Homo sapiens: one gene and its partners. The protein of the gene in region 1 interacts with the protein of each later gene in a pairwise test. Each region holds a gene or a part of one and is shown in the gene's direction. Other genes may lie near its edges.

Region 1 (3,656 bases):
TAAAAAAATATTTTACATCCAAAAAAAAAATAAAAAGGTGATATGATTTAGAGTATGGTCTTTTCCCCCCACCAGTTTCTGTTTATGTTCTTTTTAGGTAAGGTTCACTTATAAAATTTTAAATCATAATGCATGGATCATTAGTTTTATTGTAGAACTGTACACATATTTTATTATTTCAGTTACCACTGTTGGGAATAGGACCTGATAATATTTGAAGTGTCTCAGATTCACATTTGACCTTTCAATGTCAGGGGTTAACTTGACAGAGGAGGGAAAATATTGGCTGTAATCACATGAGCGCAAAAGGAACATATCAACAGTCATAATTTATATTATTTACGTATTTCCAGCAATACATCTTACCCATTTTATGCTGATTGGTTGGATTTCCCAGTGCTTATTACGAATGCATCAGGAAGTCTTAACAATTGGCATCAGCAGGATTCTTTATAATGGTTGAATTCTCATCATAGTTTGATTTTTGTTTGTGTTTTTGTTTGTGTTCTTTTTGTTTGTTTTTAAATACTTTTAGCCCTGGCTTGAAAAACAGTCCAATTGATGAAAGTGAGGTGCAAACAGCAACTGATAGTCCCTCTGTTAAACCTAATGAGCTTGAAGAAGAAAGTACTCCCAGCATTCAAACAGAAACTTTGGTACAGCAGGAAGAGCCTTGTGAGGAAGAAGCTGAAAAAGCAACATGTGATTCTGACTTTGCTGTTGAAACTTTGGAGCTTGAAACTCAAGGAGAGGAGGTCAAAGAAGAAATTCCTCTTGTAGCATCCGCTTCAGTCAGTATTGAACAATTCACTGAAAATGCCGAGGAGTGTGCTTTAAATCAGCAGATGTTTAACAGTGACTTGGAGAAGAAAGGGGCAGAAATTATTAACCCTAAAACAGCATTGTTACCATCTGACAGTGTGTTTGCAGAAGAAAGGAACCTCAAAGGAATTCTAGAAGAATCTCCATCTGAAGCAGAAGATTTCATTTCTGGAATTACACAGACTATGGTAGAAGCTGTAGCTGAAGTAGAAAAAAATGAAACTGTTTCGGAAATATTGCCATCAACTTGTATTGTGACGTTAGTACCAGGAATTCCCACTGGGGATGAGAAGACAGTGGACAAAAAGAATATTTCTGAAAAAAAAGGTAACATGGATGAAAAGGAGGAGAAGGAATTTAATACTAAGGAAACCAGAATGGATCTTCAAATAGGAACAGAGAAGGCTGAAAAGAATGAAGGTAGGATGGATGCAGAAAAGGTGGAAAAGATGGCAGCAATGAAAGAAAAGCCTGCAGAAAACACTTTATTCAAGGCATACCCAAATAAAGGAGTGGGTCAGGCTAATAAGCCTGATGAAACTAGTAAAACTAGTATTCTGGCTGTATCAGATGTATCTAGCAGTAAACCAAGCATCAAGGCTGTTATAGTCTCTTCTCCTAAGGCAAAAGCTACAGTTTCAAAAACTGAAAATCAGAAAAGTTTTCCAAAATCTGTGCCCAGAGATCAAATAAATGCTGAAAAGAAACTTTCAGCCAAGGAATTTGGTCTGCTTAAACCCACAAGTGCCAGGTCAGGCTTGGCAGAAAGCAGCAGTAAATTCAAACCTACTCAGAGCAGTCTTACCAGAGGAGGCAGTGGAAGGATCTCAGCCCTGCAAGGCAAGCTTTCTAAACTGGATTACAGAGATATAACAAAACAATCTCAGGAAACAGAGGCTAGACCTTCCATCATGAAACGGGATGACAGCAACAATAAGGTGAGGAGGGTAGGAAGAATGGCACAGTGTGTCTTTGAAGTGATTAGCTCCGCTGCTGTAGCTATGTAGTAGGAGATGTAATTTTGTTTCATACTTTCATCTCCTCACTCTACCCCGGAAGCTCCCATTTCCTTTTCTTAAATGATTCCATTGTTTAAGCCAGTAGACATTCAGAGTATTAAACTCAAGTTCATAATTTATTGACATGTTTGAAAAGCATTATTTGGATACAATTTGGAAATAACTGTGGTTTAAAAAAAAAAAAAAAAAGTCTGCAGTGAATCTCCTAAGGTGATTTACCACTCTGCTTCTGAATGGGAAACTGTTTCCTCTCTTAAATTGAAGCTTCCTTTATCAGGTCACTGATTGCCTAACTAGACATTGTGGGACGAAAAGATCAGTAAAACTGAATTTAACTACAACTTGTACAGACTGTGCCTATACTGTTTAGTGACTGTTGACTTAGTTTTGTATACATGTTAAATAATTTGCATAATTGACTGTATTTGGGTAATGTTTACTGTTTTTTTTTGTTTTTTGTTTTTTTTTCCAGAACATTAATAATATGGTTGTAAATTCCGTTTTTCTGTATTTCTTATTTACTATTTCAGACTTTGGCTGAGCAAAACACTAAGAATCCTAAAAGCACTACTGGTAGAAGTTCCAAATCTAAAGAGGTAAAAAATAGATCACAGACCCTAACCCTTCTTTTTCATCTCCATAGCACAGTTCATCTATCTTATAACTTGTGCCTGCCTTAACAATGTTAGTGACTAAGAGTTTAGAGCAAGGGATAGGAATGAGATGTTTTGTTTTTAACTTATCTCTAATCCTACCATTAATTTACTTTTTGACCTTGAGCTAGTCTAAACACCTTGTGTTTTCTTGAGGCGGGGGGAGCGGGCAAAATGTTATATGGGGACAGAAAGAGAGTAGAGTAGGGCAATACCTCCAATCTCATATTGACAGGAATAGGTTGTAGACACAGAAAAAAAATTTATATATGTGAAAGAGACTGACATTTGACTTGAGTCATCCTCATTTTGTTAAAACAGGTTATCCTTTTGGCTCTAATTTAACCTTAAGTGGATGGTCTCTAAGATTAACTTTACTGGTACCAAGTTCTGTTGTCAAACATATTTTATATTTGGTTGTTATTTTAGGTTTTTACCATTCATAGAATTTTTTTCAGTCATTTTACTTTTCTTACCTGGTAGGGGATAGATTTGGGCCTATGTTGTTGGGGCAAGGAGAAATGTTACTAGTTTTAAGCAGAAATAAGGATTATGGCTACTAAAGCAGAAATAAGGATTATGGCTACTAAAGCAGAAGTAAGGATTGTGGCTACTTCAGTTTGCTTTGTTAATTTGATAGTACAATCGCTTGTAGATATTCTCCCTAGAAATTACAGGGTACATATTCTAATGTCGTTATTATATATAATAGCAGTTAATCATTAATAACATACTAAATGTATAGGAGCCCTGGTAGGAATTTATCTTCTTTACTATTGACGGCATTTTTAAAAATTACAGATACTGTTGTTTTCAAATACAGTTATGTTAGTCATTGAGTCTTAGTAATAATTTTTTCATACAACTTTCTCAAAATGTAACCATTATATTTCTTTTATTATTATTATTATTTTGCAACGAAATCTCACTCCTGTCCCCCAGGCTGGAGTGCAATGGCGTGATCTCGGCTCACTGCAACCTCTGCCTCCCAGGTTCAAGTGTTTCTCCTGCCTCAGCCTCCCGAGTAGCTGGGTGGCATCTGCCACCACACCCAGCTAATTTTTGTATTTTTAGTAGAGCTGGGGTTTCACCATGTTGGCCAGGCTGGTCTCGAACTCCTGACCTCAGGTGATCAGCCTCCCAAAGTGCTGGGATTACAGGC
Region 2 (3,656 bases), on another chromosome or scaffold:
TCTCAGCATAAAGGTGACCCCTCAAGGCAGCTGTTCCTGCTCCTTCCCTTTTTCTCTTCCCATCTCAATAGCGACCTTTGGCATCTCTAGTCATAAAACCGTGGTCTCTTACTTGAAAGCATTTATCTCCAATTCTAATGAATCAATTAATTACACTGGTATTATAGCTCCCTAGAATAAGTGGGGATATAAAGTTGTCTCTCTCATTAAACAATGATGGGCAGGGATTGCATCTGTGTTTTCCATTGTAAATTCTAATGCTTTTCCACTCCTGAAAATTTTGTAAGATATAGATAAGACCATGGAACTCATTCTTCTGCTTAAATTCCTCCAGTACTTGCCAATCATAATTGGAACCAAATCCAGACTCCTTACTAAGGCCTCCTTTGATGAACAGCTTCCTGTTGCTTTGCTAACAGCCTTTCCTAGTCGTCTTCTTTCTTATGACATTCCTCTCTCTTTTACGCCTGTCAAATTCATTACAAAGTCAGAGGTATTCTATTTGCCTTTCTTTCCTCCTGAAGCATTTATCACTAATCTTCATATAAAGCTTTTCTCTTCTCATCTTTTAGACCTTGATATAAATTATATTTACCCAAAGTAACTGCCTCATACCCTGCCCTCGCTCGCATACATTCTCTCCATCACATCCATATGAATTTTTTTTGTTTTAAATGTGTTTTCTTTCTCCCAGAAGTTGACTGTAAGCTCTCTGACAGCAGGCTGCCTCCTTGAGAATTGTATCCTCATATTCTACAACACAGCCAGTCACATTATGATCATTTGTAAATATTCATTCATCATAAAGGAATAAATTATAAAAGCTATATTTATGATGCATTATTGTGAGGTTTATTCTGTTTTTCTAAGCCTTATTTTTGAAGGGCAAATGAATTTTATCATAAATGATCCATTTAAAAGAATTTGTAAATTTCCTATTCTAAGTATTACATTTTGCATAGGCTTTAATGTTAAAATATTGAGAAACACAGTCCTTTGAAATTGTATTCCACTGCTATGGAATTGCTACACTGTGGACCATACAAACAGGTATATAAATCTTCATTGTAATCACACATTCGCAGAGAATATGAAGTACATTTACTGTTATTAAATTTCTGCCTCTTACAATTTTTTGCCATCCTTGTTTCTCAAATTATATTTTCCAGAGACCAAAGGATGTTAAATTGTGAAATTTAAATTTCTAACCTAAATATTATAATAGAATTTTATTTTAATGAAGAAGGACTTAGGAAAGCAATACATTATGGATTAAAACATAAGGCAAAGGATTAACCCAAGCAGGCATCTGGAATGTACTAAAAGAAATGACGTGTACTAAACGAATGGGCGCGGTGGCTCACGCCTGTAATCCCAGCACTTTGGGAAGCTGAGGTGGGCAGATCACGAGGTCAGGAGATCGAGACCATCCTGGCTAACACACTGAAACCCCGTCTCTACTAAAAAATACAAAAAATTAGCTGGGCGTGGTGGTGGGCGCCTGTAGTTCCAGCTACTTAGGAGGCTGAGGCAGGAGAATGGTGTGAACCCAGGAGGTGGAGCTTGCAGTGAGCAGAGATGATGCCACCGCACTCCAGCCTGGGCGACAGAGCAAGACTCTGTCTCAAAAAAAAAAAAAATGGAAAGAAAGAAATGACGTGCTTTCACCTTCAACAGTGGCACTATAATATTTTGGGCTGGACAATTCTTCATTTTTAGGGAGCTGTTCTGGCTCTTTTAAGATGTGTAGCAGCAGCCCTGGCCTCTACCCACCAGATGCAGTATTATCTTCCCCTCCAGTTGTGACCAAAAAAAGTCTGCAGATCTTGTCAAATATCCCTGGCAGAGAGGGGGCAAAACTACCCCCAGTTCTATACATATATTATAAGGCATTTGCTAGAATTTCAGAATTATCATTTTTCACAAGATACTTTGGCCCTAGAAATGCTGACTCAAAGCCATTATTTTGGGCCTTCTACCAATGACGTGTTTGTTTCCCTTGAAGGCTTGCCAGAATCTTTATGTAGGTGACTCTAGATCATGGTTATTTATTTTCATTTTCTCAGATATTAAAGCATATTTTCCTTCTGAGTTTTGAATGGTAAGGGTAAGGCTATTCACCGCATACTATCATCCAAATAGAAGTGGATGTGCAACCACAGATATTTCATTGAAAAATCTCAGAAAGAGAAAAGCGTATTAAACATCACAGATACAGATGTCTACGCTGAAATGTCAACTTATAGATAGATGGCATAACCCTAAAAAGGTTGACAATTCCATTTTTGGTGCAGTTACAAATCATTTCACTTGTTTGTATTTCAGGACCTCCAGGATATAGTGGCTACCCTGGGCCCCAGGTCAGCTACCCACCCCCACCAGCCGGCCATTCAGGTCCTGGCCCAGCTGGCTTTCCTGTCCCAAATCAGCCAGTGTATAATCAGCCAGTATATAATCAGCCAGTTGGAGCTGCAGGGGTACCATGGATGCCAGCGCCACAGCCTCCATTAAACTGTCCACCTGGATTAGAATATTTAAGTCAGGTAATTTCAAAGACACAAAATACTCATAAAAAACAGAACTGTGCTTCCAGCTTGCTTAACCAGATTAGCAAATGAATAATTCACCAAAGTCTGAAATAGCAAAACTGTATTTTCTGCTAACAGATTACTCTAATTCTTCTAGGTCTGGTTCAATTTTAAAGCAAAATACAAATGCCTTAGAAAATTGTATTTTCTGTTATCTTAAATACAATCTATGATAATGGCCAATAGCAAACATTTAATTAGCACTGTTTCCTGCCTTTGTTGTATGCCTGATACATGTATTAACTCATTTAATCCTTATTGAAAGTCTGTGATGTATAGGTGCTACATTTTTCAAAAGAAGAAACTGAGGTCCAGAGAGGTTATATAGCTCACTCTGGGGTGAGAACCTAAAGAGTCAAGACTGTTTTTTTAATCCCGAAACTTTGGTACTGAGCGAAGTGCTCTTTAGTCTCAATACTGAATAATTGCCTTATAATTTGGAAGAAAATTTAAATAAAGTTTATTGTTGAGTTTCAATAAGTGGCCCCAAACAAGGGGTTAATATTTTATGTATAATATGACTCACCTTTTTATTGTAACTAATAAAACTGCATTTTTATGATGCTGCTTTTGTTCTTTGGAAGACCTAATTTTATAAATGCCATTAATAAAGGAGTAAAAAGTCCTGGATTTTGTTGCACTAAATTATAATTAATCTCAGCAATAAGAGGTTTAACATTTAATTGGTGTTAGAAATCAGGTAGGTCAAATAGAAACAAGAAACTCTGTGTGTCCAGTCTATACACATACAAATATTCTTGTGATATTCAACCAGTTTTCATTTCATAAATCATTTCTTTCTTGCACTCTCTTTAGTAACTTAATTTCCCACAATGTGCTTAAGTGGCATAATCATAGGAATTTTTGGTCATTATTATATTATGCAAGAAATACATAGAAATAGATATTTTAAAAATCAGAGTCTCATAAAATACATAAAGGATGTTATCACATATGACAAAGGTTGATATTAAGTATGCTTAATACAAATCTGAAACTTGTAAAAAAAAATCTCTTTGATGGCTAAAAAAGTTACCAATATTTCTTCAGCCTATTCTAGAAGGAAGA
Region 3 (3,656 bases), on another chromosome or scaffold:
GCAGAGTTGCTGGCCTTACCTGGTAGCTGATGGCTTAGGGCTCACAAGAGTACAAAACAGAAGCAACCAGATCTTTTTTTTTGAGAGGGAGTCTCACTCTGTCACCCAGGCTGGAGTGCAGTGGCTCAGTCTTGGCTCACTGCAACCTCCACCTCCCAGGTTCAAGCAATTCTCCTGCCTCAGCTTCCCGAGTAGCTGGGATTACAGGCGTGCACCACCATGCCCAGCTAATTTTTGTATTAGTAGAGATGGGGTTTCACCATGTTGGACAGGCTAGTCTGGAACTCCTGAGCTCAGGTGATCTGTCCGCCTCGGCCTCCCAGAGTGCTGGGATTACAGGCGTGAGCCACCGTGCCTGGTCTGCAACCAGATCTTCTTAAGGTTTAGACTTGTAAGGGATACAGTATCATTTCTGCCTTATTATACTGGTTAAAGCAAGTCACAAATCTAGCCCAGGTTCAAGGGTACAAATGTGTGAATCCATTTGGGGCCACCCATGTAACAGATTACCATAAATTTTATTTAAGTATAACATCAGCTTTACTATACCAAAACAGGACTTACGGAAAACTGTTTTGGAAGCTGAAGCTTAGGCAGCTTACTACTTTCCGCAAATCTGGATTTTGAGTCTGAGCATGCCACAGGGAAAGCTGAGTCTAAAAAGTGCAAATGACAGCACATCTGGCTTACTACGCAAATGGGAATACCTAGCACTCTCCTTGGTTAGAAAAGAGGAGAACATTTGTGGCCTCTGAGGTTTTTCCTAGTGTGCCACCATAATAGGGTAGGATTGACTTGCCTTCTGCTTGAGGGCAGTGGGATCTAACAAAGTACAGGACCCAAGAGTCCATGCTGCTTGGAAGTAGTGATTTACCCGATCTCGTGAATTGGAACAGACAGCATCCCATGCAGAAAATGGGCCACAGATGGGCAGAGATCGATTCCCTCTGCCCTTGTGATTGGATTTGAGACCTAGGGGAGAAGGGTTTCTTGACTATCACTCTGGCCTTGACCAGAGTGAGCAACCTGTCCCCCACGCGCTCCAAGCCCCAATGGCATTTTCTGTTTGCAGTGTCTTGAAAAAGCTTGGGATAAGCTACTCTTCCTTGGAGAGGTGTCATTATAGTGGAGAGAATTCTCTTTCCTTCTAGAGACTGGAATGGTAATCCTCTCTTATGGAAATACAATGAATAAGGTGCTGCTTCTCCTTTCCAAGAACAGGTAGATTCATTGATTGCTATCTGGGTTTTTCTCGCATTATCACTTAACCTTATCCACTATCGCTTTATTTTAGTCTTAGCAGTATTTTTTGTTTGTTTGTTTTTAGTTCAAGTTGGCTGCTAAGTAATGCCATGGTTAAAGGTGAAATGAAGAAAATGAGTGTTTAGTTTTTATTACATTATAGCTTCTGAGTGGAGTAGTGAATGCATTTCATTTTAAGAATTTAGGTTATTAGTGCATAGCTGCGAAGCATTTTTGAAGCATTTCATGTACACTAAAAAACGGGCCCCTGCATCCTAATGCAAATCTCTTTGCAAATTTCTGAAAATAGTACATTGGCTGTTGCGGGGAGGAGTTTGGTAATTGGATGTACTGAGAAACATGATTTATAGAAATAGGAAAGGCCAGGGCACAAAGAAGGGCACGGATAGAGTTACATGAAGGTGCTTCTTGATGGCTGTCCTCCCTACCCTAAATTATTTGGGTAGTTAAAAAATATCCTAGCATTAACAGAATGTAGGTATGATAGCCTTTTAGGAAACAAGGAAAACAAGTTCTTTTGATAGCTGTTCAGTATACTCATAAATCTGATTGACTGGGCTGGGTGGAAGCTGACTGTTGAGTCCTGACTTGAAATTAGGATACTGTGGTTACACATTAGCCCCAACTTGCCAAGATGTCCTACTTTTTGTCTGTGTTTAGTTAGACTGGGGAGGAGAATTAGTTAAATGAACCTGTTTTGTATAAAGTAGGATATTCTTTACCTTAGAAGTAAACAAACTAGATTGTTCTTCTCTTTTTAAGTTTTTAACGGTAGAGGCACTTTTGGCATACAGGTTAAGAGTCACAGTTTAAAGTCAGGCAGACCTGACTTCTGGTAGTATTGCTTAATGGCAGGATTGCCTCAGTTTCTTCTTTTGTAAAATGTAAAGAATACCATCCTTAATGGATTTTTGTAAGGATTAATTGAAATAATGTTTATAAAGCAGAAAGCATGGTGGCTAGAACGTAAGCCCTTAAATCATGTTTATTGCTCGTAATTCAGTATTATGAAGTTGAAAATTCAAACAAGTATTCACTTTGCTGTGAGCTACTCATTTCTCAAAGACAGTTCTAGCTTCGTTTTGGCATGGGCAGAGCTCCTTATCAAATTTCCACCCCCAGCTTTTTTTTGAGACAGGGTCTCCGACAGCTCTGTCTCCCAGGCTAGAGAGCAATAGTGTGATCATGGTTCATAGCAGGCTTGACCTCGGGGGCTCAAGCAATCCTCCCACCTCAGCCCCACAAGTAGCTGGGACTACAGTTACGCACTAACATGCTCAGCTAGTTTTTTTTTTTTTTTAGTAGAGATGTTGCCCAGGCTGGTCTTGAATTCCTGGGCTCAAGTGATCCCCCCTACCTCGACCTCCCATAGTGCTGGGATTTACAGGCATGAGCCACCAGGCCTGGCCAAATAAACAAAAAAAAAGTTGCTAAAAGGGTAAGCACGAAATCTGGGATACTGACTTAACATGGCTGGCAATATATCAGCTAGTGATGGTTTTGCTGTGCAGCCTGGGAACAAGAAATCATTAACACCATCATTAGATGAAATATTGTATTGACCAGTGTTTGTCAAAGCGCAATCCTTATATAACAGTCGTCTGGGATGCTTATTAAACATGTTGATTCTTGAGTATCCTTTGAGATCTCTGATATGGTCCTTGAGAGTGGAGCTTAGGGATCTTCATTTTTTGCAAATATCTCAAGAGATTTTATGCACATTAGTTTGAGAACTGTTGGTAGAAACTGAATTGGTTATTTGGGGTCCTAGTGTGCTCTGTCAGAGTTCATTTTTCTAGCTAGCTAGCTAAAATATTCCTTTTTTTTTTTTTTTTTTGAGAAAAGGTCTTGTTCTGTCACCCAAGGCTAGAGTGCAGTGGCAAGATCATGGCTCACTGCAACCTTAACCAACCTCCTGGGCTCAAACGATCCTCCCACCTTAGCCTCCCTAGTAGTTGGGAGTACAGGTGTGTGCCGCGACACCTAGCTAATTTTTTATTTTTATTTATTTATTTATTTATTTTAAGACAGAGTCTTACTGTCACCCAGGTTGGAGTGCAGTGGCGCTATCTCGGCTCACTGCAACCTCTCCCTCCCAGTTTCAAATGATTCTTGTGCCTCATCCTACCGAGTAGCTGGGATTACAGGTGCATGCCACCAGGCCCAGCCAATTTTTGTATTTTTAGTAGAGACGGGATTTTACCATGTTGGCCAGGCTGGTCTCGAACTCCTGGCCTCAAGTGATTCACCCGTCTTGGCCTCCCAAAGTTCTGGGATGGATTATAGCCATGAGCCACCGTGCCCTGCCTAATTTTTTATTTTTCTTAGAGATGGGGGTCTTACCTTATTTCCCAGGCTGGTCTTGAACTCCTGGACTCAAGTGATCCTCTCAC

The links.
Region 2: the proteins of ZNF638 (region 1) and PLSCR1 interact in a two-hybrid assay, tested with the Homo sapiens proteins (one large-scale study listed by BioGRID and IntAct).
Region 3: the proteins of ZNF638 (region 1) and WWP1 interact in a two-hybrid assay, tested with the Homo sapiens proteins (one large-scale study listed by BioGRID and IntAct).

The regions. Positions count from the first base shown.
Region 1 is NC_000002.12:71,422,279-71,425,934, forward strand, and holds part of ZNF638 (zinc finger protein 638), read left to right. Parts: intron 1-535; coding exon 536-1,760; intron 1,761-2,371; coding exon 2,372-2,437; intron 2,438-3,656.
Region 2 is NC_000003.12:146,527,501-146,531,156, reverse strand, and holds part of PLSCR1 (phospholipid scramblase 1), read left to right. Parts: intron 1-2,325; coding exon 2,326-2,543; intron 2,544-3,656. UniProt on the Homo sapiens protein: Catalyzes calcium-induced ATP-independent rapid bidirectional and non-specific movement of phospholipids (lipid scrambling or lipid flip-flop) between the inner and outer leaflet of the plasma membrane resulting in collapse of the phospholipid asymmetry which leads to phosphatidylserine externalization on the cell surface.
Region 3 is NC_000008.11:86,348,958-86,352,613, forward strand, and holds part of WWP1 (NEDD4-like E3 ubiquitin-protein ligase WWP1), read left to right. Parts: intron 1-3,656. UniProt on the Homo sapiens protein: E3 ubiquitin-protein ligase which accepts ubiquitin from an E2 ubiquitin-conjugating enzyme in the form of a thioester and then directly transfers the ubiquitin to targeted substrates.